3 separate regions of the Homo sapiens genome follow, and all the other regions are linked to region 1. Evidence: fine-mapped expression QTL. A gene starts in region 1. Each other region holds a variant in brackets. All regions are shown on one strand. Distances are from middle to middle. Region 1 holds the start of ZNF717 (zinc finger protein 717). Region 2 has its middle 30 kb from the start of MIR4273. Region 3 overlaps ZNF717 (zinc finger protein 717).

Evidence for each region.
Region 2: its variant is fine-mapped to the expression of ZNF717 in whole blood (INTERVAL, PIP above 0.99).
Region 3: its variant is fine-mapped to the expression of ZNF717 in whole blood (TOPMed, PIP above 0.99).

What each region holds. Positions count from the first base shown.
Region 1 is chr3:75,780,200-75,790,323 of GRCh38, reverse strand. It overlaps ZNF717 (zinc finger protein 717), which reads left to right and starts at 4,775. Exons shown (of 5, transcript NM_001290208.3): 1 at 4,775-4,940; 2 at 6,960-7,018. The coding sequence starts at 6,962. RefSeq lists an enhancer at 4,513-4,662.
Region 2 is chr3:75,702,871-75,712,994 of GRCh38, reverse strand. It overlaps a transcript of ZNF717 not described here. Among named protein-coding and RNA genes, the nearest start is that of MIR4273, 30 kb to the left of the region's middle. The variant C/T (reference allele first, on the strand shown) is at 4,821.
Region 3 is chr3:75,757,704-75,767,827 of GRCh38, reverse strand. The region is part of intron 2 of ZNF717 (zinc finger protein 717); the gene reads left to right. Among named protein-coding and RNA genes, the nearest start is that of ZNF717, 23 kb to the left of the region's middle. The variant C/G (reference allele first, on the strand shown) is at 4,561.

The sequences.
Region 1 (10,124 bases):
AGGTGATGTGATTCTTCCAGTTTTGTTCTTTTTGCTCAGGATGGCTTTCGGTATTCTGGGTCTTTTATGGTTTCATATAAATTTTAGGATTTTTTTTCTATTTCTGTAAAGAGTGTTATTGGTATTTCAATAGGGATTGCATTGAATCTGTAGATTGCTTTGTGAAGTATAGGTATTTTAACAATATTTACTCTTCCAATCAATGAACATGGACAATCTTTCCATTTTTTTTGGTGTCCTCTTTAATTTTTTTGCATCAGTGTTTTATAGTTTTCATTGTAGAGATCTTTCACTTATTCTGTTATGTTTGTTCCCAGATATTTTATTTTATTTGTAGCTATTGTAAATGGGATTACATTCTTGATTTTCTTCTTTAGATTGTTCATTTTTGTCATTTAGAAATGCTACCGACTCTTGTAGTTTGATTTTGTATCCTGTGACTCTGAATTTGTTGATCAGTTCTAATAGTTTTTTGGTGGAGTCCTTAGGTTTTTCCAAATATAAGATCAAATCATCTGCAAACAAGAAAACAGTAATAATTTTACTTCTTTCCAATTTGGATCCCTTTTATTGTTTTTCTCTTGTCTGAATTGCTCTAGCTAGGACTTCCAGTACTGTGTGTTGGAAGTGGACATTCTTGTCTTGTTCCAGATCTTAGAAGAAAGGCTTTCAGCTTTTCCCTGTTCAGGATGATACTGGCTGTGGGTCTGTTGCATATGGTTTTTATTGTGTTGTGGTATGTTCCTTCTATATCTAGTTTTTTTTTGAGGGTTTCTTTTTATCACAGGGATGTTGGATTTTATTAAATGCTTTTCAGCATCAATTGAAATTATCATATGGTTTTTGTCCTTCATTCTGTTGATATGATGTGTCACATTGATTGATTTGCATATGTTGAACCATGTTGGCATCCTCGGGATAAATCCCACTTAGACATGATGAATGGTCTTTTTCATAGGATGAGTTTGGAAATACTACAGCCTTCTCTGTTTTTTGGAATAGTTTAAGTAGGATTGATAGTAATTCTGCCTTCAATGTTTGGTAAAATTAATCAGTGAAGCCAGTGAAGCCATTGGATCCAGGCTTTTCTTTACTAGGAGATGTTTTATTATGGCTTCAATTTCATTTATCCATTTCTTCTAGGTTTGTTGTTTGGTTGTTTTTTTGTTTTCTTTTTTTTGAGATGGAGTCTTGCTCTGTCACCCAGGCTGGAGCGTGGTACAATCTCAGGTCACTGCAACCTCTGCCTCCCAGGTTCAAGTGATTTTCCTGCCTCAGCCTCTGGAGTAGCTGGGAGTACAGGTGCATGACACCATGCCTGGCTAATTTTTGTATTTTTAGTAGAGATGGGGTTTCACCATGTTGGCCAGGCTGGTCTTGAACTCCTGACCTCAGGTGATCACCTTCCTTGGCCTCCCAAAGTGGTGGGATTACAGGCATGAGCCACGGTGCCTGGCCATTTCTTCCAGGTTTTTCAATTTATTGGAATATAGTCAGTCATAATAGTTTCTAATGATTCTTTGAATTTCCGCAGTATCAGTTGTAGTATCTCCTTTTTAATCTCTGGTTTTATGTATTTGAGTCTTCTCTCTTTTTTCTTAGTCTGGTTAAATGTTTGTTGATTTTGTTGGTCTTTTAAAAAATATTAACTTTTCATTTCATTGATATTTTATATTTTTAAATTTCAATTTCATTTATTTCTGCTCTGATCTTTGCTATGTTTCCTTCTACTAATTTTGGTTTTGGTTTGCTCTTGCTTTTCCAATTATTTAAGATGCATTATTAGGTTGTTTATTTGAAGCTTTTCTACTTTTTTTGATGCAGGTGCTTTTTGCTATAAATTTACCTCTTAGTACTGTAGTAGTGTTTTTACTGTATCCCATAGGTTTTTTTTTTTTTTTTTTGAGACGGAGTATCGCTCTGTTTCCCAGGCTGGAGTGCAGTGACGCGATCTCGGCTCACTGCAAGCTCCGCCTCCCGGGTTCACGCCATTCTCCCGCCTCAGCCTCCTGAGTAGCTGGGACCAAAGGCGCCCGCCATCACGCACGGTTAATTTTTGTTTTTTGTATTTTTAGTAGAGACGGGGTTTCACTCTGTTAGCCAGGATGGTCTCGATCTCCTGACCTCGCGATCCGCCCGCCTCAGCCTCCCAAAGTGCTGGGATTACAGGCATGAGCCACTGCGCCCGGCCTGTACCCCATAGGTTTTGGTTTGACTTTAAACTTTTTCTTTTCTCGAAAACTCAGTGTCGTGGTACCGGCTTCTAGTGCTTTGGGCAGTGAGACCCTTTTACTTGATAACAGTGGTAGCTGGGACAACTTGGCAACGTAAATAAATAAACGGCATCTAGATTGGAAAGGAAGAAGTACAGTTATCTTTATGTACAGATGACATGATCTTGCATTTAGAAAATCGTAAGAAATTTACTAAAAAGTATTAGGACTCATGAACAAATTTAAGAATGTAACACTATATAAGATTGATATACAAAAATAACTGTATTTCTTTACCAAGAAATCAAGAATCCAAAAATGGAATTACAAAAATAAATCTTGTTACAATAGAATTAAAGCTGGGGAAGCTTAAACTTGAACACTAAAAACTGCAATACATGGTTAGCGTCGGAGACACCCAGGTATCATCCCTGAGCCTTCTCTCCTTGGCTCTGAGGACTTCACCTTCACGTGGTGAGGAAAGGGGTTGCAGTCTTGGCTTTTACGTTATATTAGGTGGGTTCAGGTTGAGGTATCTGCAATTCAAATGAGTATTACAATCTCTACTTTTATGGATAAGAGACTGAGGCCCACCAAGAGAGGGAATGACAGTCCATATCCTGGAAGGCAAATTGTCAGGCACTGATTTCCGCTATGTAACCCCTGCCAATCATCGTGTATTTAAAGGATCCCCAGATACCATACCAATAGGTGTTCAAGAGAGAGGCCTGTAATCTAGGCGTCTGAGAAAGCAAGGCTAGAGATTCCGATATTGGAGACAACAGGGCTCTGGGAAGATTAAGGTTGAGTTTTCTGGATCTGCAGAATAGAGTCACTGAGGAGCAATTGCAAGATCCGAGGAGATGAAAGAACAAGTCAGGGCATGCTTAGGAAAAGAGAAAACCAGGGATAGGTTTTAGGCAAGAGTCACACTGAGGAAGGGCAGGTTCTTGGCGTCGCTCAGGAAGGAATCCAAAAGCAAGCCTGTGGTGGAAGAAAGCAGCTCTACGGAGGCACTGGCGGTGTTACAGCCCTGCGTCCACTCCTGCAGGGCAGGGAGCCCTCCGTGGGTTGTGCTCCCAGAGTAGCAGCCTGGGGGTGGCTTGCAGTCATTTTTATAATTCACTTTTAATGGCATGCTAATTAAGGGGCGGGTTATTCAGAAATAGCTAGAAATGGGCAGTAACTTCCAGCTGTTTCCATGGCAAGGGGTGGGGACTTCCCGTGCTGCCGTGGCATTGGCAAACTGTCACGGCACTGGTGGAAGCGTCTTCTGGTGATCTGAGGCGTGAGGTGCTTTCGCTGCCTCTCCCAGTCTCCTGCGTGCCTCTTACCTGAAAGCCCTTCACACCCTCATCTGCCCACCTACAAACTTCACTGCCCTTTCACCCCAACCCCGTTTCACACGCACTCCCACATCAACCCTGAGCATTCAAGCTTGCGTTTCCCTGTTAGGAACCTCGGTGGTGGCCGGAGCTCTGAGAAACCCCTAGGCAGAAATCCTTGCCTAGTTTGTGGCAGAAATCAGGGAAGGAAAGGCAAAGTTCAGGTCTTTCTCACAATAAATAAATAAAGATAGCTAGATTTGATTGATTGGTGGATGGATGAAACGTGGGAGTTTATGGGCAAATATTTATCAGACACTGGAAGTGTAAGTTGTCACAAAGATTATGGAGTGCACCTGTCTTATGACCCTGTTATTTTATCCCAGTATATGCACTAGAGCATTTTTTGTAACTGTGTAAATTGAAGGCTTATAAATTAGTTTAGTGAGAGAAAAGATAACGGATTGGAAGAGAATTACCATATTCATTAGTTGTGTTTTTAAAATTTTAAAGTAAAATAGAGACATGATTTTTTTCATGCTTTCGAATGCATTTATAAAAAATAGACTTGAGGGCTGGGCGCAGTGGCTCACGCCTGTAATCCCAGCACTTTGGGAGGCCGAGGAGGGCGGATCACGAGGTCAAGAGTTCGAGACCAGCCTGACCAACATGGTGAAACCCCGTCTCTACTAAAAATACAAAAATTAGGTGAGTGTGGTGGCGCGCACCTGTAATCCCAGCTACTCAGGAGGCTGAGGCAGGAGAATCGCTTGAACCCGGGAAGCGGAGGTTGCAGTGAGCCGAGATCGCACCATTGCTCTCCAGCCTGGGTGACAGAGTGAGACTCCGTCTCAAAAAAAAAAAAAAAAAAAAAGTTACTCATTAATAGCATAGACCAATTGGCCTCTATTGAAATTTCTCCATTATTTTCACAATGTGCCAGGCTGTGAAACCAGGATTTAATAAAGAACCAGAATGCCACATCTGTGTCACCTGGGTAGGGACCAGTCCTGATCCATTAAGTCCGGGTCTCTGGGTAACTGGACTCACTGCTGGGCAAAACAGAATGTCCGGCTTGGGTTCCTAACCGGGGACCGCAGAGCCTCATGGGAAATGTAGTGTCACCTTCCAATGATGTTACCATCAAGGACCTTGGGAACCAGCTTTTCTCTCTGCGCATGCGCCGCCCCGCCCACTCCGCCATTTTCCTCCGGAAGTGCGGCACCCAGAGGCGGTCTTGTAGCTGGGCCAGCCTGGGGCTTGGTTCTATGTCCCTGCGGGTCGGTGCGAGGGCGAAGAGGAACCCGTGGGCCCGGGGGATCCCGGGGGGCCGGACCAGTGTTCCCCAGTTGTGGGAGCAGACGCGTGGGCGCATCGCGGGCGGGCAGGGCCTGAAGTGCAGGTGCAGGCCGCGGACCCTGGCGGGGGCTGGGAGGACAGGCGTGGGGTCCCGGCAGTGAAGCGGGTTCTAGAGGCGCAGGAGCGGGTAGGCGAGGCCGGTGGCCCTGGGCCCGGAGTCTGCAGGCCGCGCTCCTGTCCTGCCGCTGAGGGAGCCGGTTACCAACCCGCATGACGCTCAGTTTGCCCATCTGTCCCAGTGCGAACACACAGTTCTCGGGAGACGTTCCCCATTCCCAGAGGAGTAGTGCGAAACGCGTGCGCCTCGAGTCTTAAACTGGGCGTTTGTATTAGTTGGGTTTCCCGGTGTCTCTTTAGCAAGTGAAGTTTCTGGTTCCCTCCTTCACTGTGTGACCTGCCTAGTCCTCCTGGGTTGCGTTTACAGAAGTTTATACGAGACCTAGTTTCCAGGGAAGAACTCACTGATGCCGCGAGGGAGATGGGGTACTGGATGATGGTCTTCAGCCTTAAGGGTACTTCAGTCTTAACCGTGTGTTATAAGGTTTGAAAGGGAGGGTTCCCTATGAATAAGAAGCGCACTTGAAAGAACAGCCCTCTGGTCTAACCTCCCACTGGTGCTTCAGAGGAGGATAAAAGGTCACAGGTGAAGATCCCAGTTTTCCTCGCTCGGGAAATATTAATTCTACTCCCTAGAATGCACAAGATTTGCAAAGACTAGGTGACAGTGGTAGGTTTGGACGAACTTTCAGAAGGTTGAGGTGAATTCGGCTGAGAAGAACAGGCAAGGACCTAGGAAATATTCCTTATTTGAAGGGGCCTGAAAGTGTGGTCTGGGGTACAGGAGTGACCTGTCATACCTGAGAAGATTAAAATACTCTCCAAACACAGTCCCATTCCTTCAACCTTTCCTCGTTGTTTCCAGCGTTTGAGATATATTAAACCTAGTCCATCACCAAATTTAGCTTTAGCATTAGATTGTGAAGTTCTATCGATTGTATTTGATTTGTAATTTAAGACTTTCTCCCCCTACGTAATTTTGTTAAAAACATATTGAATTCTGTTCACTTAGGTGTAACAGTTAATACTTGCTGTTTAAGGAACTAATTAAACCTTACTGGCTTATAAAAAACAACCACCATTTTATTTGTTTGAAGTTCTGTGGATCTGCATTTTGGTGTGGTGGGTTCAGCTGGGTAGTTGATATATTTATGTTGCCTGGATCACAAAAGAGGCCTTGGTCACATGGTGGGTTGACTGAGCCTGGTTGGTTTAAGATAGTTTCCTTCACAATCTGGCGGTTTGTGGTGACTCTTGGCTAGGCCCTGTGTCTCCACCAGGGTAGCTCCAGACCTCCTCACAATATGACTGTGTCCAAAAAGGCAAGAACCAATGGATATTTGCATCACATTTTCCATTGTCCATTCACTGGACAAGTCAGATGGAAAAGCCCAATTTATTGTCAGAGCATAATATGAGGGCTTGGATACAGGGAAAGGTGTTATTGGGAAACATGAGTAGAATGGTGTACTGCAGGAAATACATATTATGTACATTTAAAAAAAAGTAATTGTAGGCCAAAATTGCTGGGTTGCAAGATGCACTTTCCATGATGTTCAGGTATAGAAAAGCAAGATGTACTGTCATGGGAACACTCATATGAAGTTATTTGTGGAATCCACATATTAATAGGAAAATAGTTAATACAGCCCAGTATATTTCTATAACATTTATTTTAGTGAACTTATAATGTTTCTTTGTATTAAATTATTAGATTGTATCTTTAGGTAATATTGTTGCTAAATTAGTAGGTAATACATATTTTTATTCAAAATAAATTGTGCATCTAATGTCTACCAATTAATGTACTTGTAGATGTATCTTATCTTGAGTCTTTGCTGCCCCTAATGAGGCTTGAAGGACTCTTCTCCCATGGGGAAGTTTTTCTTTTTCAGGAGGGAGGAGGGCTTTTCCAGGTAATGTGTCTAGAGTGTTGGGCAGAAGAATCTGGGACCACACCACACCAGTTCTCTCCTTAATTCACGTCATTTGCCTTCTCTCTCAGCTATGTTTCCAGTGTTCTCTGGCTGTTTCCAAGAGCTACAAGAAAAGAATAAATCTCTGGTGAGTTGTTTATTTGTTCTTCACTTTGTTTTACACTGTATTTTCTGAGTTTATGGGTGTCTGTGAATTAAAAAAGAAAAGTGGAAATAAGTAAAACTCAGGTTGAAGGAAATATACATAAATAAGATAAAGCTGACCTGTAGATATAGACAGGTTGTAAGAGCTTAGAGTTGTCTAAGTTGAGTGCAAATTTTCCTCTGATCTTTCTGATGCAGTGACAAAAAAGTCAGTCATGGTTGTTACGTGATTGGAATGGAACCCGCGAAGAGAGCATGCTGTGTTCTTGTGGGACAGGAAAGCTTGTGTGCACCAAGTCTGAACCACCACCTTCGGTGGTGACATAGGTTATGTGCTGGAACATATTTCACACCAGCCTGGCAGTAAATACTTGTAGTGTTGTGCAGTGGAAACGGTCATCTTCTGCTAAAGCACGGCATGTTGTGCAGTGGAAACGGTCGTCATCCGCTAAAGCACGGCGTGTTGTGCAGTGGAAATGGTCATCTGCCGCTAAAGCACGGTGTGTTGTGCAGTGGAAACGGTCATCGTCCGCTAAAGCACGGCATGTTGTGCAGTGGAAATGGTCATCTGCTGCTAAAGCATAGTGTGTTGTGTAGTGGAAATGGTCATCTGCCGCTAAAGCACAGTGTGTTGTGCAGTGGAAATGGTCATCTGCCGCTAAAGCACAGCTTCCATCATAAGGTATGCTCCTTGCTGTGGTGGAACATATTTCACACCAGCCTGGCAGTAAACACTTGTAGTGTTGTGCAGTGGAAACAGTCATCTTCCACTAAAGCACGGCCTGTTGTGCAGTGGAAATGGGCATCTGCTGCCAAAGCACAGCTTCCATTGTAAGGTATGCTCCTTGCTCAAAGAGTGTGGTCCCAAACAGCTTTTGGGAGGTGCTCCTTGATTCATGGATGAAACCTGGAACATCTTGAGAACTGAGTTAACCACAGGTCCTTAAATAACTCTCCACACCTTTATCTTAGTTTATCTCTACATGCAGGGTGTGCAGCAGCCTGTTCAAAGTTATATTTTCTGGGAAATACTTCCAGTGTTTATTTGCACTTTAGCCCACTCTGTGTAGTCCTAACTTATTTCTTCTAAACTCACCATTAACCTAAATAATAGTCAAATTTAGGGGGACTGTGATTGCCTTACTCGAGTCTTCTACCATAGTTGAAACTGTCGTATCCGAGCGAGTTAGAGAGAAACGCCACACTTTGAGACGAGTTCAGGAGTCCTTTATTAGCCAGCGACTGAGAGATGGCTAACGCACGAAATTCTCTCGGCCCCGGATAAGGGGCTAGCTTTTCTTTTATACTTTGGTTTAGAGAGGGGAGGGGGGATTCTAGCTGCAGCAACCTTACAGAAGAAAAAACAGACAAAAAAGTTAAAACGACAGATGGTTACAGGAAAACAAACTGTTCCAGGTGCAGGGGCTTTAAATTCACCACAAAGTGATAGGTGAGGGGGCTCTGGGCGTTAGCTGCCGGACAAATGTGCGGGCTTTATGATACTATCTCTGAGTAAATTGCTGGGAACTGCAGACATCACTTGCCTCAGCGCTTTATCAGTTAATTGCAGTCTTTGATATGTTGAAAGTCAGCTTGCACAAGTTAAAGTCCTTGAGGAAAGGGAGTGGGTAAGGAGCCCTTGATGTCTTATAAATGAAGGAGCCAAATGGAGTTTGTCCGGTTTTCTCAGCTAAGGGAGAGTCTATTCATATTAAAAACAAGGTTAGGTATCTAAGGACGAGTCTATTCATGTTAACACAACTTTGGGTATTACAAAATGTCTGTTCATGATCTGGAAATTCTTCTGTGTTAGTTCTGTTAAAAGAAAAACTTTAAAGGAGTTTAGTTGAGCAATAAACGATTCATGAATCGGAGAGTCCCCAGAAACACAGCAGATTCACAGAGACTCCAGCACAGTCATTTGGTGGAAGAAGATTTATAGACAAAAGGGAAGTGGCATACCGAAATCAGAAGTGAGGTACAGAAACAACTCAGCATTTGCCTTGTTTGAACACAGTTTGAACACTTGGCAGTGCCTGAGTGGTTGAAGTTTGGCCACTGGGATTGGCCAAGACGCAGCTGTTGTTCCAGGTGCATACTCTCAAGTTAGGTTTTCATTCTTGTCTACCTATTAAGGTAGGTTGCAGTTCATCCACAAGGACTCATATATAGAATTATGGAGTCCTTCTCAGGCCATACTTAGTTCACTTTAACAATTCCTTCCCTTTGGTTATTTTCTCAATTTTGAGAGATTGGCCAAAACTTCAGTCACTGGTGTCACTATTACCATTGCAAATGTACTTACTTGCTTTAGAAACCCACTGGGAAATAGACCAGTGAGTTTTGAAAAGGTGGACCAAGGACTTGAGTAGAAGGTACCTTCTTATGCTGGAACGTCCTGTTTACAGGAGAAAAACAAAACCTGGTTTGTTCTAGGATTTATGTGTTTCCTTAAAGTCTTAGTTTGATTATGTTACATTTAGCATGAGTAACTCCATTTTGGTTTGGTTTGGTCTGTTGGGACCTATTGCATGAGCTTAGTTTAAAACAATGGCCTCGCATAATTTTGCTTAAAAAATTCCTCCTTTTGGCTGGGCGTGGTGGCTCACACCTGTAATCCCAGCACTTTGGGAGGCCGAGGTGGGTGGATCACAAGGTCAGGAGATTGAGACCATCCTGGCTAATACGGTGAAACCCCGTCTCTACTAAAAATACAAAAATTAGCCGAGCGTGGTGGTGGGCACCTGTAGTCCCAGCTACTTGGGAGGCTGAGGCAGAATGGCCTGAACCCGGGAGGCGGAACTTGCAATGAGCCAAGATCTTGCCACTGCACTCCACTCTGGGGGACAGAGCAAGACTCTATCTCAGAAAAAAAATAATTCCTCCTTTTTAGTCAAGTTCTCACTTAGTTGAGAGTGTGACCAAAATGTAGGGCCTTAGCACTACTGTTAGTTACCATTGTTTTAGGTTTCCGGTTTAGCACATCACTCCCATTGTTTTGGGTTCCAGTTTTAGCACGTGACTCCCATTTTTTGGGTTTCTGGGTTTAGCACGTCACTCCCATTGTTTTGGGTTCCGGTTTTAGCACG
Region 2 (10,124 bases), 77 kb after region 1:
GATTACAGGTGTGAGCCACCATGCCTAGCCTAACTAATATATATAATTCTATATAAAAGTGTGCCTTAAAAAGTAGGATGAATTTTTAATAAGAAAAAATGTATAAGAAATGCATACAAATATGCTCTTTATTGAGAAAGAAGTAATAATTTTATATAATTTGGAGGTTATTTAAAGGTTGTTTCAAAATATTGATTCAGCAAAAAAACAGTGAAATGTTAAAGAAGAACCAGTAAGTAGAAGAGAGAGATGTGAAGAAAGTTATTGATAGGGAGATGGAGATAGGAGAAGGTTGAAAAGAAAAGAAATATTTCACATGACAAAGAATCTTGTGTGGTAAATTTTCATCCTAAACTAAAATGTCTAGTTATTTAAGAGGGAAAGTACAGGACAAAGTGGAAAGCCCAAGAATGTCACCAATGGTCTGAGTAACTCATTTGTGAAAGGGAATTTATGCAAGATGTTTTGCATGTGACCAAGTTGGTTACAATCAGAAGAAAATTAAATTCTTCTGAAAATTAATTTATTAGTTTTCTAAATAAAATTAGAAAAGTCTTTCTAAGGATTAAGCTTTGGCATTAAAAATACACTAATACAAACCTGAAAAACTGTGGTCCCCTATGTTAGAACAACAAGGTTTTCTTAAAGTATTGATTTAGTTTTCATAAAGTTGCAAGAGGTTTTGAGTTTTAATTCTGAAATCTGTTCCCTTAACAGCCATCTTCTAAACTACAGACAATTTCCATTTCTGTCAAATATCTTTCTGAGATCTATTTAATTTGCCTAGTTTGAGGATGGAGATTCAGCTCCCCTTTTTTCTTGCCTAAAAAGGCATAACATTGTGCTTGGCTGAGGTGATAACTTTCCTTCAACCTTTTGTCAACTCTTGTAACTTTTTTTCTGTGGTTCCAACTCTGCTGTTATGTCCTGATGGTGAAATATATGTCCTGAAAAATCTAGAAAAACAGTGTTTTACTCCAACATAACTTGAAATTAATAAAAGTCTGATTGTCCTGATGTGATGTAGTCAGTCATGATTCTGGTTGCATGAAATAAAAATAACCAAGTTTCATTGTCAATTAGGACCTTTGATCAGATTTTAAACCATGGCTATTCCAAGTTTTTGTCATTCACAGTTGTTTTGAAAATTTCTCCAAAAGTGTTTGCAATCTGCTGTAGTCCAAAACTGCTTTTCATAGAAAATAACAAATACTCTTGAACACAGAATTCCAATAAATTTTTTGAGACAGGGTCTCACTCTGTTGCCCAAGCTGGTATACAGTGGTACAGTCTTGGCTCACAGCATCCTCAACCTCCCAATCCTCTAATCTCAGCCTCCTGGATAATTTTTGTATTTTTTTTATAGAGATGGGATTTCTCCATATTGCCCAGGCTGATCTCAAACTCCCAAGTTGAAGTGATCTACCTGCCTCAGCCTCACAAAGTGCTGGGACTGCAGATGTGAGCCACTGTGCCTGGCAAAATTTTTGATAATTTAAGATCAGTAGACTAAATAAAAATCTCCAGAGCTCAAATAAATAAGCTGATGGATTTATAAAACTGTTAATCAAGATTAAACAAAACAAAACAATTACATGAAATTAAGTGGTTCACGAAGATGATGTTTTTATGACTTTTATTTGAAACATTATTGGTTCTGAAATATTTTGTTTTCCAGATTTAAGAAAACTTTATCTCGTAAGCTACCTATAGTTTACAAAAATTCAGTAAAGTATAATTTTTTGAACAAAGATGGAAGCATTCATTTTGTCTCCCTACTTGATTCCTCCAAAATTTGGAAACCATTTGTGAGTATTCTTCTATTTTTACTCAATAAATATCTGTTTCTCTTCATAAACAGAATACCATTGAAAACCTTGGTTATATTATTAAGGCTTTGACTGAAATATCATATTTAAGAATGTGCATAAAATGCCTGGCTTCCAGTGCTTCCAGCCTGACAGTGAATGAGTAAAAATTGTCACTTCCTGGCAGGCCCAAAAACTTTAAGATTGTAAGTAAAATCTAAAACCTCCCTTGCTTTGGCCTCAAGAGGTTTTTAAACCTGAACTTTCTGTAAATTAATGTAGAGAGAAAGTTCTGTTTCTAAAGAAAAACTATAATGCCTCTGTTAGTAGATTGTAAATGTGTGCATTCTTTTCAAGTTCTTGTTATCTACATGTAGATTATACTAGATCCTGAATTTTCCTAATGTATTTCTCCTAATTTGGCAACAACTCTCCAACTAAAGGCAAAAGCTGCTCTGTTACTAAAGCCCTATGAGCTGAAACTAGATAAATTTTAAAGAATAAACTTGTGCCTGATGTATGGATCACAGAAAGAGTGCACCAAACCAACTGATGTCATGACCAAAGACATTCAAACTACAAAGCAGGAGAAGTTAATGTTTTCATGCCGATTTTCCCAGGTCATTAGAACAGATTTTCCCAGGTCATTAGAACAAGACTCCACGTGATGAGATTTTTACCCCTCCTCCTCCTTAATGCTACATTTTTCACTTGGCAGAATAATGATGTGAATGAAAATTCACAATCAATAGCTTCTGCTCATAAGTATCCTTTGGTTAAATGAGAAAATGACTGTGTTATTGTCAATACTATATGCTGTACCTGGATAAATTTCTCTATGAAATTAGAAATTTATAGACACAAAAGAAGAAGACAGGCCATGTGGTTACACCATCTCACCTGATTCCTTGTGATCATTTGATTTATTCAATTAGTTGTCTGTAAGCCTAGGTTAATGGCTCAAAGCCATTATGCAAACTAGAATTGTCCTATTACTATTTACTTCATAATTTCCCTTTTTAAACTGTGTATCCATTACTTAAGTTTTTTTTCAAAAGTACAACTCCTAACAGAATAATACCAGTACAGCACTTTAAGATGATAGCAAAAGACTACAGAACAGACAAAATCGAACTTAATAATGAACTCCAGGTAGACTTAGCCTGAAAACTACTCCCTTCAAATTTCCCTTGTTGCTCCAAATATGCCTAAAAGGATTTTGACACTGACTCTTAGGTGCCAATTACCCCCTGCCTCAATGTGGGATGAGAACAAAAACCAAAATAGGTCCATCCTAGCACCAAGGGCCATCAAAACCAAACTTAAAGATGATTGATCAGTGATGCTTTTGGAAAAAGATCTGGAGCACAAAAGGGAAACGTGAAAGTTGTCTGAATCAAAATGGAGTCACTAGTAATAAGAAAACTCTGACAGCTCGAGCTGGGGAAGGCCATGAAGAGAGCATTCTCATGCGTGTATGCCTGATGATGAAAAAGATTCTACAAAAATTACAACCTTGCACAAAGTCCGTGACAACGTTATACAAAAAAAAAATTCTGTAAGGACATCTGCCCAGTAACTACTGCCTTCCAACCATGGACTGGCATCACGATTGTTATTGATTTTTGTAGCCAAGGATAATTATTTCAAAACAATTATGTAACCTTCCTCATTGTTTCCTTTGAAAACCTTTGTGTTTCATGTGATTTGGGTGTTTGCCCTCTCCAAATCTCATGTTGAAATGTAATCCCCAGTGTTGGAGGTGGGGCCTGGGGACATGACTGGATCATGGGTGCAGGTCCTTCATGAATGGTTTAGCACCATCCCCTTGGTGATAAGTTCTCACCCAGAGTTCATGTGAGTTCTGGTTGTTTAAAAGTGTGTGGAGGCTGGGTGCAGTGGCTCACACCTATAACCCCAGCACTTGGGGAGGCTGAGTTGGGCAGAATACTAGAGATCAGGAGTTTGAGACCAGCCTGGCCAACATGGTGAAACCACATCTCTACTAAAAATACAAAAAAATAGCTGGGTTTGGTGGCATGAGCCTGTAATTCCAGCTACTCAGGAGGCTGAAACAGGAATCGCTTGATCCCAGGAGGCAGAGGTTGCAGTGAGCCGAGATCACACCACTGCACTCCAGCCTTGGTGACAGAGTGAGAATCCATCTAAAAAAAAAAAAGAAAAGAAAAAGAAAAAAAAGAAAAGATGTGGCACTTCTCCCCTCCCTCTGTTGCCCCTGCTCTCACCATGTAATGTGCCTGCTGCCACGTCAAATTCTGCCATGAATAAATGTTTCCTGAGGCTCTCACCAGAAGCAGATGCCAGAACCATGCATCCTACAAGGCCTGTAGAACCATGAGACAATTAAACCTCTTTCATTTATAAATAACTCAGCCTCAGGTATTTCTTTACAGCAATGCTCTTCTCTGTATTGGCTATTCTAGTTATCCATTCGTCTAATTTTTTTTTCACAGTTTTTAACTTCTTTGCCATTGGTTTGAATTTCCTCCTGTAGCTCAGAGTAGTTTGATCGTCTGGATCCTTCTTCTCTCAACTCGTCAAAGTCATTCTCCGTCCAGCTTTGTTCCATTGCTGGTGAGGAGATGCGTTCCTTTGGAGGAGGAGAGGCACTCTGCTTTTTAGAGTTTCCAGTTTTTCTGCTGTGTTTTTTCCCCATCTTTGTGGTTTTATCTACTTTTGGTCTTTGATGGTGGTGACGTACAGATGGGTTTTTGGTGTAGATGTCCTTTCTGTTTGTTAGTTTTCCTTCTAACAGGCAGGACTCTCAGCTGCAGGTCTGTTGGAGTTTGCTAGAGGTCCACTCCAGACCCTGTTTGCCTGGGTATCAGCAGCAGTGGCTGCAGAACAGCAGTGGCTGTAGAACAGCGGATCTTGGTGAACCACAAATGCTGCTGCCTGATCATTCCTCTGGAAGTTTTGTCTCAGAGGAGTACCCAGCCGTGTGAGGTGTCAGTCTGCCCCTACTGGGGGGTGCCTCCCAGTTAGGCTGCT[C/T]GGGGGTCAGGGACCCACTTGAGGAGGCAGTCTGCCCGTTCTCAGATCTCCAGCTGCGTGCTGGGAGAACCACTGCTCTCTTCAAAGCTGTCAGACAGGTACATTTGAGTCTGCAGAGGTTACTGCTGTCTTTTTGTTTGTCTGTGCCCTGCCCCCAGAGGTGGAGCCTACAGAGGCAGGCAGGCCTCCTTGAGCTGTGGTGGGCTCCATCCAGTTCGAGCTTCCCGGCTGCTTTGTTTACCTAATCAAGCCTGGGCAATGGCAGGCGCCCCTCCCCCAGCCTTGCTGCTGCCTTGCAGTTTGACCTCAGACTGCTGTGCTAGCAATCAGCGGGACTCCGTGGGTGTAGGACCCTCTGAGCCATGTGCGGGATATAATCTCCTGGTGTGCCATTTTTTAAGCCCATTGGAAAAGCGCAGTATTAGGGTGGGAGTGACCCGATTTTCCGGGTGCCATCTGTCACCCCTTTCTTTGACTAGGAAAGGGAACTCCCTGACCCCGTGAGCTTCCTGAGTGAGGCAATGCCTCACTCTGCTTTGGCTTGTGCACCGTGCACTGCACCCACTGTCCTGCACCCACTGTCTGGCACTCCCTAGTGAGATGAACCCGGTACCTCAAATGGAAATGCGGAAATCACACATCTTCTGCGTCGTTCATGCTGGGAGCTGTAGACCAGAGCCAATCCTATTCAGCCATCTTGGCTCCACCCCACCCCAGATTTAAGAATGTAAACTAGCTTGCATCCCCTGGGACTCGGTAAGTATTGGGGACAATGAGGTGTATGGAGACAACTGCATTTCTTAATGCTCTGAGGGTTCTGACAAATCTGTACTTGCCATTAGGCTTTTTATCTGGTAACATGGGAGTATTGTAAGGGGACTCTTATGGCCTTAATAACTCATATGGCAAGAATTTGGTGCTAAGGGGTTGAATTTCCCCTCATGCTTCTTGCCTTAATATGTATTGTCTTTTCTGAGGGTGAGGAGCACTAGGCTGAAGTTGGATTTGAATGGGGAAGGTGTTTAGTGTGTTTCCCAGAGCCTGTGTGGCCCAAACCTCAAGATTTACTTGAGACAACACTTCAGGCAGTAAATGTGACAGCTCATTCTTAACTTCCCCTGAGGGGTCAGGAACAAAAGTAACACTTTCTATGCTTTATGATCTGTGAAGTTGACCATGACTTGGTCTTCTGAGTCAATAAACCTCTCCCCAGTAAGAGGTCAGGCATTCAGACAGTACTAAAAAGGCAGGTGAGAAGCCCAGAGGCCCTGGAGGACAACTTAGAAGATATGATAAGCAGTGTTTTGGGGCTTGTCCATCATGAGAAGACAGGAGCCCATTGTATTGAATCAGGACAGAGTCATCTGCTCCCATACCTAATATGAAGTTAATACTCCTATCTGCCACTTCAAGAGTCACCTGAGTCTCCTCCATCTCTCGATAGCTAATAGTCCAATGGGAGCAGAGGTAGGAAGTATCAGACCCTATCACTTTTGAGTCTGCTGGGCTCTGATGATGGCTCCCTTGGAAGCACAGTGCATTTCCTTCATCAGTGGCTGACCTTCTTACAGAAGGCACATTGATTTGTATCCAAGGCACAGTGGCTCAGAGGCACAGAGTGGGACTTTCACCTTCTCACCTCCTCTGTGAGGCCTGGGGCCCAGGGGCTGCCTCTGAAGTGGTGGAGAGCACAAGGCTGCAGCTAGAAGCTGGGCCTCTTGGGAGATTTGCTTTATTTTATGTTATCTCTGCCCTATTCCTGTGATGGAAAACTGCAAAATCCAAGTCTAAAATCTGATCCATGGGAGTCTGGAAGCCTAAGGCTGCTTTTGGTGTCTTCCTGCAGATATCAGAAGCAGACTGGGCTGTAAAATAAACTGCTAGCAATGCCTGTCCCTTCTTGGGGTCAGGGTCAGTGTTAGTGTATTTCCTCAAAGTCTAAATTATCCACCGTTTTAATAATGCTAGGTTTTCATCTTTTCCCTGAGTAATTTTCCAGACTTTATAAAAATTAAAAAGCTTTATCACACTTTTTTTTTATTCCTTCAAGGAGTCAAATGATTGTAATTTTTTCTCTCTATATCCCATTTTCTTCCTAATTCATTTGTCTTTTCTAGATTCTAGTTCTCTTCTGGGTCCTGGTCAGGCACTGGTGTGCCTCCTATTTGATAGGTGTCATGTCCCTGGTTGCAGGCTGCCACCCTATTAGCATGTACTCTAGCCACTCCCATAATGCACTGCTTTTCTACCATGCAGCAGGTAAACATAAATATATGCAAATCCTGCCTGGTCAGATTATACATCAAGGTTAGCCTCTTAAATTTGTCTATGAATTTTCCCAGAACCTCTGAAAATTGTTTTAGTTTTTCCTTGCATATGGCTAATTCAGACATAGAAAAGGGTACATATACCTATACAGTGTCCCTATTATCATCTGTCACTTCCCAGAGAGGGCAAACATTCAACTTTGCCAGCTGATAAGAGGCCCTACTGCATGTTGTTCCAGTGAAGCTCAGGTGTTTCGAGAGTGGGGTATATATGTAAGACAAGACTTGAAGGGGAGGGAGAAGAGGATGACCAAACACTAGATAACCCTGGAAAACTAGAAGAAATTAATAACGCGTTGCACACCTCACCAGAACTGGAAGGAGTCTGACTGGGTTCTTATGGGGTGCTTGAACTGGCAGGGGGAGTTCAGCCCCAGCCAAGAAAAGCCTGATATTAAGAGGCACTTGCATTAAAAGGGTAATCAATTATGTGCCATCCCTATTTTGTCTTTTCCTCCATCAAACATATAGAAGCCCATTTTAATTTTTTATCCTGACCAAGCATCAGAGAAGCCTGTATATAATGTATTTCCTCCCACTTAGTTTCTCTTCTGTAAAACAAATTAAGCTGCAAAATAGGAGTCAGATCGAACGGGGAAATGGGAAGGCTGTAACTTGTACATTGTAATGTATTAGTCCATTTTCACACTGCTGTGACAAAACTGACAAAACTCTTTCAGGAAAAAAGTGACATGCTGGGTTTAGAAAGTAGGGTACAGCTGCCCTATACCAGCTCATCAAAGATGACCTTATGGTTAAGAAATGAGAGAAAACTGTTAAGAAAAATTATGTTCTCCATCTTGAGGCTAATTGTTTGCAGAGGGTTGTCATAAAAGATGCTGCCACTAAACAGGCATATCTGATCTTATCATGTAGGGCTGTTAAATACCACATTTCAACTTCTAGTCATAATGATGGAGAGGTTACTGCTGATCTTTTCTGATAATTAAGGTACAAAAATACTAGGTTCCAAGACATCTCTCTTTTTTCAGTGTCACTTGGACCAGTGGCAAATTAAACAAGCAATCAGATAAAAGTCAGAGGATAGTTGAGGAAAGTAAAAGCTAAACTGTTTGGGGCCTCTTTCCTGGGGCAGCCTCCAGGCTACTACAAAACTGAGGCGCTGAGCAGAGAGGTGACAAGATGCAGAGCACTCAGGTGAGGGACAGAGAGCGGAAGGTGGACAGTCCAAAAAGAGAAAGTGGCAAACATCTTGTTTAGCCAAACCCATTCTTCTCAGTATTCCCAAGGGCCTCTAACCCTGTGAGCTTGGCCTCTAATCTGAATATGATGCCCCTGGGCCTCTAACTTTTGGGGCTGAGTCTCTCACCCTAACATTATGCCCTAGGGTCTCTCACTTAAATAATAGTGGATAATCGTTCTTGCCCGCCTGAATGGCTTCACGACTCTAAAAGATGGCCCACTTGCCAGCTGATTGATTCTGTGTGGATTGTTTTCCTTGGAGTGGGGGTCTTGTCTTGGCGTCCCTTCATGATATTGCCGAAAGATGTTGCTGGAAAAGAGGGTCCTGATACAGACCAAAAAGTAGGATTCTTAGATCTTATGCAGAAAAAATTTGAGGTGAGTCAGAGAGCACAGTGAAAGAAGCAAGTTTATTAGAAATGACTCCATTACAGAGTTGGACATCCTCAGAAAACAAGAGCAGGAGTGCATTGTCTTTTGTTAGTGTCTCTACTTATAAGTAACTATAAAGAGAAAGAGTTATAATTAAACTTGGAAGGTGCAGATGTACTCACTAAAGTCAAGGCTATTGGTTTTAACAATGACCATTAACCCACTGTCCTAAGCTAGCTCATTAATATTATCCTTACAAAAAATGCTACACTCCTAGGACATTTATACATTTTTCAGGCTTGGTGGAAGATGTCTTGTATGGCCACAGATATTCTGCAATTGTAATTTGTGGCCAGCTAAAAAATGTGGCTATTTTCAGACCATGAGTATTAACCTTCTAGATGCCTTGTGAGTACCTAGCTACTCATATTAAGATAGAGTATTCTGGTCATGTTTGTTAAACTAGAAGGTTGGTAGCCATGAGTCCCTCTAACACAGCAAGTCTACTCCTCAAGGAGAAAATGTATTTCTTAGGAACTTTGTGCATTTTGTTTGATGGAATTTGGTATGTTTACCAAAATGGCAGAAAACAGTAAAATTAGTCCTCAAAGATTTCTCAAGATTGGATATAAACAAAATGATAGTTAATATGGAAGTTGATACAGTTGATATTCAAAAGAAATTTTGTTTGAAACACAATGAGATTTTTATTTTTATTTATTTATTTATTATTATTATTATTTTGAGACAGAGTCTTGCTCTGTTGCCCAGGCTGGAGTGCAGTGCACCATCCTGGCTCACTGAAACCTCCATCTCCCAGATTCAAGCAATTCTCCTGCCTCAGCCTCCCAAGTAGCTGCGATTACAGGCATGCATCATGACACTCAGCTCATTTTTGTATCTTTAGTAGAGATTGGGTCTCACTCCATTGGCTGGGTGGTCTCAAACCCCTGAAAACAAGCGATCTGCCCACCTTGGCCTCCCAAATTGCTGGGATTACAGGCATCAGCCACCGCTCCCAGCCACAATGAGGTTTTAAAATAATTCTGATTTCCTGCTGTTGAGCAGGGAGCTGAGCAAATTCAACAGATTCATGGGCTTAAAGTAGGAGAAGACTGAGGACAAACTCTAGAATGCATGTGATTAAATTAACTACAATTGAAACCAAATCAAATTTAATAAGGCTGTACCTCTTAGTTTCAAGATGTTTCCCCTCGTTTTGAAATGTGTTATTCAGTGGAAAAGAAAACTAGTGTTTGTCTCCAGAGTAAAGAACAGGGTTCCCTGCAGGGATTGATTGACTGAGAGCTATGGCTTAGGATTAAAAATCCTTCTTTTTTCCACTTATAAACTAAAAATAAATTTTTAAGCCCCTATTGACTAAATGAACCCCTCTTCTTGG
Region 3 (10,124 bases), 22 kb after region 1:
ATTCTGTCTGAAAACTGAACCTCCTTCTTTAGATCATGTCCCTCTCCTGTCATATTTATTCAGTGACAGTTAGGGGAGGCTGGTAGCACTTTCCACATTCTTCTCAGATGTCTCCTTAGGCAGATCCCTGAGATGGTGCAGTGCCCTTTCAGTTTCCGTATTGTGGCTGTAGTTTTCCCACAGTCCCTCAGCACGTAACTCCCAGGCCTTTTCTCCAGTTTCCAATGACATTTTCTCACTGTCCTTCAGGCCCTCACCAAGAGTCTTGATGCCCTTCCAGCTTGCATGAATGGTCTCCTTGAGGCCCAGTTACAGCTCAGCCTCACAGTTGTGGCACATGTTGTAGCTTCTGATTACCACAGCGGCTCATTTCCAGCTGCCATATTCTGTTCCAGTTATCTATTCTGAAGAAACCATCCCCAAAACTTGGCAGCTTAAAACAACTCATTATTACTTGTTTTTTGGCTTAGAGAGTCTTGTTGGCCAGCTCATCTCACACATAGTTGCAGCAGGGCAGCAGCCGAGCTGGATTGTTTGAAAGCACAGCGGTGTGGTGTGCAGGGTGGCTCACTAGTTGTTGGGAGTGGGTGTTGCTGGAGGCTCAGTGGGGGCTGTCAATGAGTGTAGCTAGTCGTGGACTGGCCGTATGGTTTCCATCATGGGGGTCTCAGGGAAGTGGGATTTCCTGCCTGGTGACTGGCTTTCTCCTGGATAAGTGTTCCGTTCTCTCAGCCTGGCTTCTGAAGTCCCCAAATACCACCTTTGTCACCTTCTGTTGGCCAAATAAGTCAGTAGTCTGGGCAAGGTTCAGGGGAATTGGTTCTCACAGAGAGAGGAGCAGGAAAGAAGTTGTCACCTTTAGTCTACCAGAAATGTGATTTTTATAACAAGTTTGTTCCAAATACATTCCAGTTCCCCTTGTGAATACTTTTTTTGACTCACAGGGTGTTTCAAAGTTTATTACTTGGTTTTCAGACATTTGAGGCTTTTCTGGATATCTATTTGTTGTTGGTTTCTAATTTAATTTCAAGTGTTGAGACAACATACTTTGCATACTATTTCAGGCTTGAACCTTTTCTCAATAGATGGACATACAGTCTGTCTTGGTAGTGCTCAACTGTGTGCTTCATAAATACCATTTGGGTCAGGATTTTGTCATTTAGATCTGTATTTTCCCTATTTTTTTATTTGGTTGTTCCGTCAGTTACTGAGAGAGCAGTATTAATTCACCAGCTATAATTGTGGATTGTCAACTTCCTGCTTTCGTTCTGTTGTTTTTGATTCACGTACTTTGAGGTTTTGTGTGTGTGTGTACTTTGTGTGCACTTTGAGGCACAATTTATAATTTTAATATCATCCTCTCTGATTCTTTTACTTTTATGAAAGTACCCTGTTTATTTCTGGTGATATATTTTGTTTTGAAGCCTCTTTCATCTAGTGTTAACATCTCCATTGAAGCTTTTTATGATTAGTGTCTGGATACCATCTTTTTATGATTAGTGTCTGCATAGCATATTTTTTCTCATAGTTTGTTTGTGTCTTTGTGTTTAAATTGTGTCTCTGTGGATGCCATATTGTGGGTCTTGCTTTCCTCTCAGGTCTGGCAGTCTCTGTCTTAAGTAGAGTATTTGTCCAGTTACATTGTAACTAATCATTACTAAGGTTGGATTTAGGTCTGCCATTTTTCTACTTATTTTCTATTTGTTTGTTTATTTTTTTTTAAGACAGGGTCTTGCTCTGTCACCCAGACTGTAGTGCAATGGTGCAATCTTGGCTCACTGCAACCTCTGCCTCCCAGGCCCAACCAGTCCTCACTTCAGCCCCCTGAGTAGCTGGGACTACAGGTGCATGGCACCATACCTGGCTAATTTTTATATTTTTTGTAGAGATAGGGTTTTGCCATTTTGCACAGGCTGGTCTTGAACTCCTGAGCTCAAGCAATCTACGCACCTTGGCCTCCCAAAGTGTTGGGATTACAGGCATGAGCCACCATGCCTGGCCTTCGTCTGTCTTTTGATCTTCTATATATTCTTTCCTAACTTCTTTTGGGTTAATTAAATATTTGTAAATATTCCAGTTCGGTTAATCTTTTGGCTTTTTCAAATAATTTTTTATAGGCTGGGCATGGTGGCTCATGCTCGTAATCTCAGCTCTGTGGGAAGCCAGGGGAGGTGGATTGCTTGAGCCCAGGAGGTGGAGACCAGCCTGCAACATGGCAAAACCCTGTCTACAAAAAAACCAAACCAAAAATTAGCCTGACATCGTGGTGTGCACCTGTAGTCCCAACTATTCGGGAGGCTGAGGTGGGAGGGTTGCTTGAGCCTGGGAGGTCGAGGCTGCAGTGAGCTGTGATCATGCCATTGCACTCCTGCCAGGGCAACAGAGTAAGACCCTGTATCAAAAAAGATCATTTTTTATAAATAATTTATTATTTCGAATTTTGGTGACAAACACATACCTTAAAATTTACCATCATAACCAGTTGTAAGTATACAGTTTTATAGAGTTAAGAATATTTACAGTGTTGTGTAGCAGATTTCTAGATTTTTTTTTTATCTTGGAAAGCTCTATACCCATTCAACAACTATTAATTTCCCCCTCCTTCCACCTCCTGGCAAGTACTATTCTACTTTGTGTTTCTAAAAATTTGGCTTATATACCTGGGGTTATATAATATTTGTTGTTTTGTTAAGTAGGTTTCATGTTATGTGTCAGATGTGTCAGGATTTTCTTCCTTTCTATGGCTGAATAACATTTCTTTGTACATATACACACACACACACACACACACATATACATATATATATATATATATATATATATATATATATATATATCCTTTTGTTTATCCGTCCATTCCTGGATGGACGTTTTGGTTTCTTCCACCTTGTGGCTGTGTAATGCTGCTGTGAACATAGGTGTGCACATATCTGTTTGAGGTCCTGCTACTAGTTATTCTGTCTCTCTGTAGAAGTTGGATGGCTGGATCATATGGTCATTTTATTTTTTTTTTGAGGAGCCAGTTCATATTTCCACCAACAGTGTACAAGGGTTTCAGTTTCACCTGCACTTGTTACTTTCTGTTGGGTTTGAAGTGATGTCCCATTGTGGTTTCTATTTGCATTTCTCTAATGATTAGTGATGTTACACATCTTCTCATATATCTCATGTATCTGTTGGCTATTTGTATATCATCTTTGCATCTTTGGATAAATGTTCTTTGTCCACTTTTTAATCACTTTATTTTGTTGTTGGGTTGTAGCGGGGTTTTTTGGTCATGATCATTTATCTCACAGTTCATTCTCGTTACGTTGGGCCAGGGTCATGATCATTCATTATATCACAGTTCATCCTCATTACGTTGGGCAAACAGTCATGCTGCATGGTATAGATTATGTTATTCTGTTACTTTCAGGTAGAATTGGGGTCCAGGTTCTAATTGTCTCTAAGTTTAGATTCCGAATGAGAATCAGCAGAGGTAGACCACTGCTACTGAGGCCTGGGAACTGCTGGGAAAAAGGCAGGAAACAGATACGGAACTGACCATGGAGGATTTGTGTTTCACGGCTCCCATCTGGGTACCCAAGGAACCTACATGTAGCTCGTGTGCAGAGAGCCCACATTGGCCACTCAAAAGCAATTGAGGATGGAGCAGGCTTGGGGCTGGAGCTCATTATTTGGAATAACAACCACATCTGCACAGAGAGGACCTGATAAGATGTTGTCCTTCCATCTATATCTGGGAATCCTGTGTAGGGTCTCTCTGTAATGACAGGGGCAGGGTTGGCTCCTTGGCCTCTAGTTAGCCTCACGAGTAGTCTAGTAAAGATTTTGCAAACTTGTCACCATCTGTGGACATTCTGGTCAGCTCTTGTTTTCACCCTACTGACTTCTTCAGGCACTAGGCTGTTGCTTTAGACCATTAATGGTTTTTCTTCCTCTTCAAATCAGTAATCAATAAATCCTCTTCAAATCAGTAAATTTCCACTCCTTTAGGAAACTCTGATCTTCTGGTCACTCCAAGGTTTAATTAACTGGTTTGATTGTTTTTCTGTTTTCTTGGTTTCTTTTTCCTTCTTCCTAGGTGTTTCTAGTAATTTTAGTTTGATGTCTCACTTTCTCCATTTTTTATTTCTTAGTTTTCTTCTGTGATTATTTTCACTGCAGCTGCAGGGCCTAATCCTGGGTTGGCAGAGAACTAGCACTTACTCTGCCCTAATTGGAATCCAGGAGAGATAGGAGGTGCCCCAGTGTGAAAATGTGTTTGCTCCTCTCTGCTTCTGGTAGTCTCTCTGTAGGAGTTCTTTACGTATTCTGGATGTTCACTTCTTATGAGATACATGATGTGCAGCTATAGGTTGAATGTCTCTGATCCAAAAATCTGAAATCCCAAATGCTCCAAAGTCTGAAACTTTTTGAATGCCAACATGACACTCAAAGGAAATGCTTATTGGAGCATCTCAGACTCAGGTGTTTGAATTTGAGATGCTCAACCAGTAAGAATAATGCAAATATTACAAAATCTGAAACACATCCCAAGCATTTCAAATAAGGGACGCT[C/G]AACTGGTATTTTCTTTTACTCTACAGTTTCCTTTTACCCTGTTGGTTGTGACCTTTGAGGTATAGAAACTTTTAGGTTTGATATGTTTTTGATTTTACTGCCTGAGCTTTTAATGTCATATCCTAAAAATTATTGACAAATTCATTGTCATAAAGCATTTTCCAAATTTGTTTTGCCTAGGAGTTTGATAATTCTAGTTTCACATTTAGGTTTATAATTCACTTTGAATTAATTTTAACGTGGTGTAAGGTAAGAGTCCAACTTCATTGTTTTGCATGTGGATATACAGTTTTCCCAACACCATTTGTTGAAGAAACTGTCCTTCACCATTGAGTGGTCTTGGCATCCTTGTGGAAGATCATTGGACCATATATGCCAGGATTGGTTTATGAGGTATCTGTTGTGTTGGTCCATAAGTTTCTCGTGTGTCTTTATGTCATGACTACATTTTTTTTTTGGCTTATTGCAGTTTTGTAATTGTTTTGAGACCTTTAATTTTGTTCTGTTTCAAGATTGATTTGCCTATTCATGGGCCCTGGAGATTCCATATGAGTTTTAGGATGGGTTTTTCTGTTTATCAAAAATGTCATTGGAATCCTTATAAGGATTGTATTGAATCTAGGTCACTTCGAGTAGTGTTGACATCATTCCAAGATGAAATCATCTCATCTGCAAACCCAGCTTTTCTTTTCATTGATTTGTGTTTAGTTTCTTTCGACAGTGTTTTGTAGTTTTTGGTGTTCAAATCTTTTGCCCTCTTGGTTAAGCTAATTTCTAGTTTTTAAAATGCTGTTGTAAATGTAATTCTTTTTTTTTTTTTTTTTTTGAGATGGAGTCTTGCTCTGTCTCCCAGGCTGGAGTGCAGTGGCACTGTCTCAGCTCACTGCAACCTCCACCTTCCTTATTCAAGCGATTCTCCAACCTCAGCCTCTCAAGTAGCTGGGATCACAGGTGCACGCCACCATGCCCAGCTAATTTTTTGGTATTTTTAGTAGAGACAGGGTTTCTCCATGTTGACCAGACTAGTCTTGAACTTGTGACCTCAGGTGATTTGCCTGCCTCGGCCTCCCATAGTGCTGGGATTGCAGGCATGAGCCACCACACCTGGCCAAATGTCATTCTTTTTAAAAATTTCTTTTCTTTTGTTTTCTTTTTCTTTCTTTTCTTTTTTTCTTTTCTTTCTCTCTCTTTCTTTCCTTTCTTTCTTTTTTTTGAGATGGCGTCTCACTCTGTTTCCTAGGCTGGAGCGCAGTGGCACAATCTCAGCTGACTGCAACCTCCACCTTCCAAGTTCAAGCAATTCTCCTGCCTCAGCCTCCCAAGCAGCTGGGACTACAGGTGTCTGCCACTATGCCCAGCTAATTTTTGTATTTTTAATAGAGACAGAGTTTTACTATTTATATTAGAGATGGGGTTGGCCCAGCTGGTCACGAACTCCTGACCTCAGTTGGTCCACCCGCCTTGGCCTCCCGAAGTGCTGGGATTATAAGCGTGAGCCACTGCACCTGGCCTCTGTTTTTAAAATTTTATTTGCAGATTGTTCATTGTTAGTTTACAGAAATGCAACTGACTTGTGTGTGTTACTGTATCCTGAAACTTTGTTGAATTTCATTATTCTACCAGTATTTTGTGGAATTTCAGGATTTTTACACATTACATCCTGTTGTCTGTGAACAAAATTTTATACTTCTCCCTTTCCAATTTGCATGCTTTTTATTTCTTTCTCTTGCCTAATTATTCTGAGTAGAAATTCCAGTACTGTGGTGAATAGAAGTGGCAGGAGGAGATGTTGCTATCTTGTTCCTGATCCTAGAGGAAAAGTTCTTAGTTTTTCACCATTGAGTATGATGTTAGCTGTGAGCTTTTCATGTACGATCTTTATTTACTGAGGAGTTTCCATCTATTACTAATTCTTTGAGTGTTTTTATTATGAAAGGTGTTCATCCCGCTGTGGAACCAGATAAATGTTGACCTGATAGAATGGATTGGAATGTCCCCTCCTGGTTTTTGAACATTTTTTGAATATTTTGCAGAGCATTGGCATTAATTCTTCTTGAAATGTTTGGTAAAATTCTCCAGTGAAGTTATCTGGACCTGGAATTTTCTTTTTTGGGGGGTTTTTGATTACTGGTTGAATCTTCTTACTAGTTACAGGTCTCTTTGGATTTTTTATTTCTCCATGATGCAGTATGGTGGTTTGTGTTTCTAGGAATTTATAAATTTATTCTAAGTTGCCCAGTTTTGTGGCATATGGTTTGCTCACATTAGTCTCTTGTAATCTTTTTCATTTCTGTGGCATCTGTTGTACTGTCACCTCTTTTATATATGATTTTAGTATTTGAGATTTCTCTTTTTTTCTTAATATGGCTGTGAGTTTTAAAATTTTTATTGATCTTTAAAAAAACAAACTCAGTGTTTTTTTTTCCTTTCTTTTTTCTGGTCTTATTCTGCTTATCTCTGCTCTAATCTGTTATTTTCTTCCTTTTGCTTGGTTTGTCATTAGTTTTTTTTTCCCTTCAGGTGTAATGTTAGGTTATTGATTTGAGATCTTTCTTCTTTTTAATTTAAGCACCTGCAGCTATAAGCTTCCCTTTAGCATGGGTTTGAGATCTCGCTTCTTTTCAATTTAAGCATCTGCAGCTGTAAGCTTCCCTTTAGCATGGGTTTGAGATCTTTCTTCTTTTTAATTTAAGCATCTGCAGCTGTAAGCTTCCCTTTAGCACTGCCTTTGTTGCCTCCTCCTGAGTTTGGGTATGTCATGATTTTGTTTTCATTTGCCTAAACATTTTTTTGTCCTATTGTAATATAATTGCGTTGTTTTTAATAAAGGTGATTAATGAAACACATAATGAATTGTGCTTCTGTTTTTATAATATTTTAAGCATTCTTAACTCAGAAATGTAAACTTTAGAAAAAAATTCCAGGCCAGGCACAGTGGCTCACACCTGCAATCCCAGCACTTTGGGAGGCCGAGGCGGGCGGATCATCTGAGGTCAGGAGTTGGAGACCAGCCTGGCCAACATGGTGACACCCTGTCTTTACTAAAAATAGAAAAAAAAAATATATAAAAGTTAGCTAGGTGTGGTGGCGGATGCCTGTAATCCCAGCTACCGTGGAGGCTGAGGCAGGACAATCACTTGAATCTGGGAGGCGGAGGTTGCAGTGAGCTGAGATTGCACCACTGCACTCCAGCCTGGGTGACAGAGTGAGACTCCGTCTCAAAAAAAAAGAAGAAAGAAAAAATTTCAGACATATTTGTATGTATTTCAATTTAGAAACTATGATCTCCTAAGTGTATTGACACAGCAACCTGACATAAAGATAAATAAACCTATACCAAAACGGAAACCTGCAAATACCTGTTTTTCATTAATTTTTAATTATATATATTTAAAAATTGCCGGGTACAGTGGCTTACACCTGTAATCCCAGCACTTTGGGAGGCTGAGGTGGGCAGATCACATGAGGTCAGGAGTTTGAGACCAGCCTGGCCAACATGGTGAAATCCCATCTCTATTAAAAATCAAAAAATTAGCCAGGTGTGATAGTATGCATCTGTAGTCCCAGCTACTCAGGAGCCTGAGGCGGGAGAATTGCTTGAACCTGGGAGGCAGAGGTTGCAGTGAGCCAAGATAGTGCCACTGCGCTCCTCCCTGGGTGACAGAGTGAGACTCTGTCTCAAAAAAATAAAAATTGCCTGGGCGCGGTGGCTCACACCTGTAATCGCAGCACTTTGGGAGGCTGAGGCAGGCAGATCATGTCAGGAGATCGAGACCATCCGGGCTAACACAGTGAAATGCCGTATCTACTAAAAATAGAAAAAATTAGCGGGGCGTTGTGGCGGGTGCCTGTACTTCCAGCTACTCCGGAGGTTGAGGCAGGAGAATGGTGTGAACCCGGGAGGTGGAGCTTGCAGTGAGCCGAGATCACGCCACTGCACTATGGCCTGGGCAACAGAGCAAGACTCCGTCTCAAAAAAAAAAAAAAATTAGATGACCATTTCACCTAAAATATACCCTCTTAAGTTTTTTTTTTAAGTGTACAATACAGGACGGCCATGCATCAGAGATATATGTGGGTTTGGTTCCAGACCACTGCAATAAAGTGAGTTATACAATTTCTTTTGGTTTCCCAGTGCATGTAAAAGTATGTTTATACTGTGCTGTATAAAGTGTGCAACAGCATATGTCTACAAAGTGTACACACCTTAGTTTACAAATACTTTATTGTTAACAAGTGCTAACAGTCATCTGAGCCTTCAGCAAGCTGCAATCTTTTTTTGTGTGTGTGATAGGATTTCACTCTGTGGCTCAGGCTGGAGTAATTGCAGCCTCAACCTCCTGCTCAATCAAACCCCCACCTCAGACTCCTGACTAGCTGGGACTACAGGTGCGTGCCACCATGTGCAGCTAATTTTTTTTTTTTTGTAGAGATGGTGTTTTGCCATGTTGCCTCGACGTCCTGGGCTCAAGCAATCCCCCCACCTTGGCCTCCCAAAGTGTTGGGATGACAGGGGTGAACCACTGCACCTGGCCAAGTTGCAGTCTTCTTGCTGATGGAGGGTCTTGCCTTAATGTAAGGTGGTGATTGCTGAGGGTTGGGGTAGCTGTGGCAATTTCTTAAAATAATACAACATTGAAGTTTGCTGTGTCAATTGACTCTCCCTTTCACAAAAGAATGATCTGTAGCATACGATGTTGTTTGAGAGCTTTTTACCCACAGTAGAACTTTCAAAATTGGATTCAATCCTGTCAGGCCTTCGTACTGCTGTACCAACTAAGTTTATGTATTATTGTAAATCATTGGGTTCAATCCTGTCAAGCCCTCCTTCTGCTGTACCAACTGAGTTTATTCTAAATCTGTTGTCATCTCAACAGTGTTTACACTGTCTTCACCACGAGTAGATTTCATCTCAAGAAACTACTTTCTTTGCTCATCTGTGGAAGCAACTCATCCACTCACGTTTTCTCCCGAGGCTGCTGCAGTCTCACCATATCTTCAGGCTCTGTCTCTGATTCTAGTGCTCTTGTTATTTCCACTATATCTGCAGTTACTTCCTCCACAGAAGTCGTGAACCCCTCAGTGTCATCTGTGAGGGTTGGAATAATCTTGACAACTTATCTCTCTCTCTTTTTTTTTTTTTTTTTTTTTTTTGAGATGGAGTCTTGCCTGGGCTGGAGTGCAGTGACAACACGATCTCAGCTCACTGAAACCTGCGCCTCCCGAGTTCAAGCAATTCTCCTGCCTCAGCCTCCCAAGTATTTCGGATTACAGGCATCCCCCACCAGGCTCAGATAAATTTTTTTTTTTTTTTTTAGTAGAGACAGGGTTTCACTATGTTGGCCAGGCTGGTCTCAAATTCCTGACCTTGTGATCCACCCACCTTGGCCTCCCAAAGTGCTGGGATTACAGGCGTGAGCCACCATGCCCGGCCCCAACTTCTCCTAATGTTGCTATTTTGATCTTCTTTATTAAATCATGAATGTTCTCAATGGCATCTAGAATGGTGAATCCTTTCAGTAGATTTTCAATTATTTTGCCTAGATCCATCAAAGGAATCACT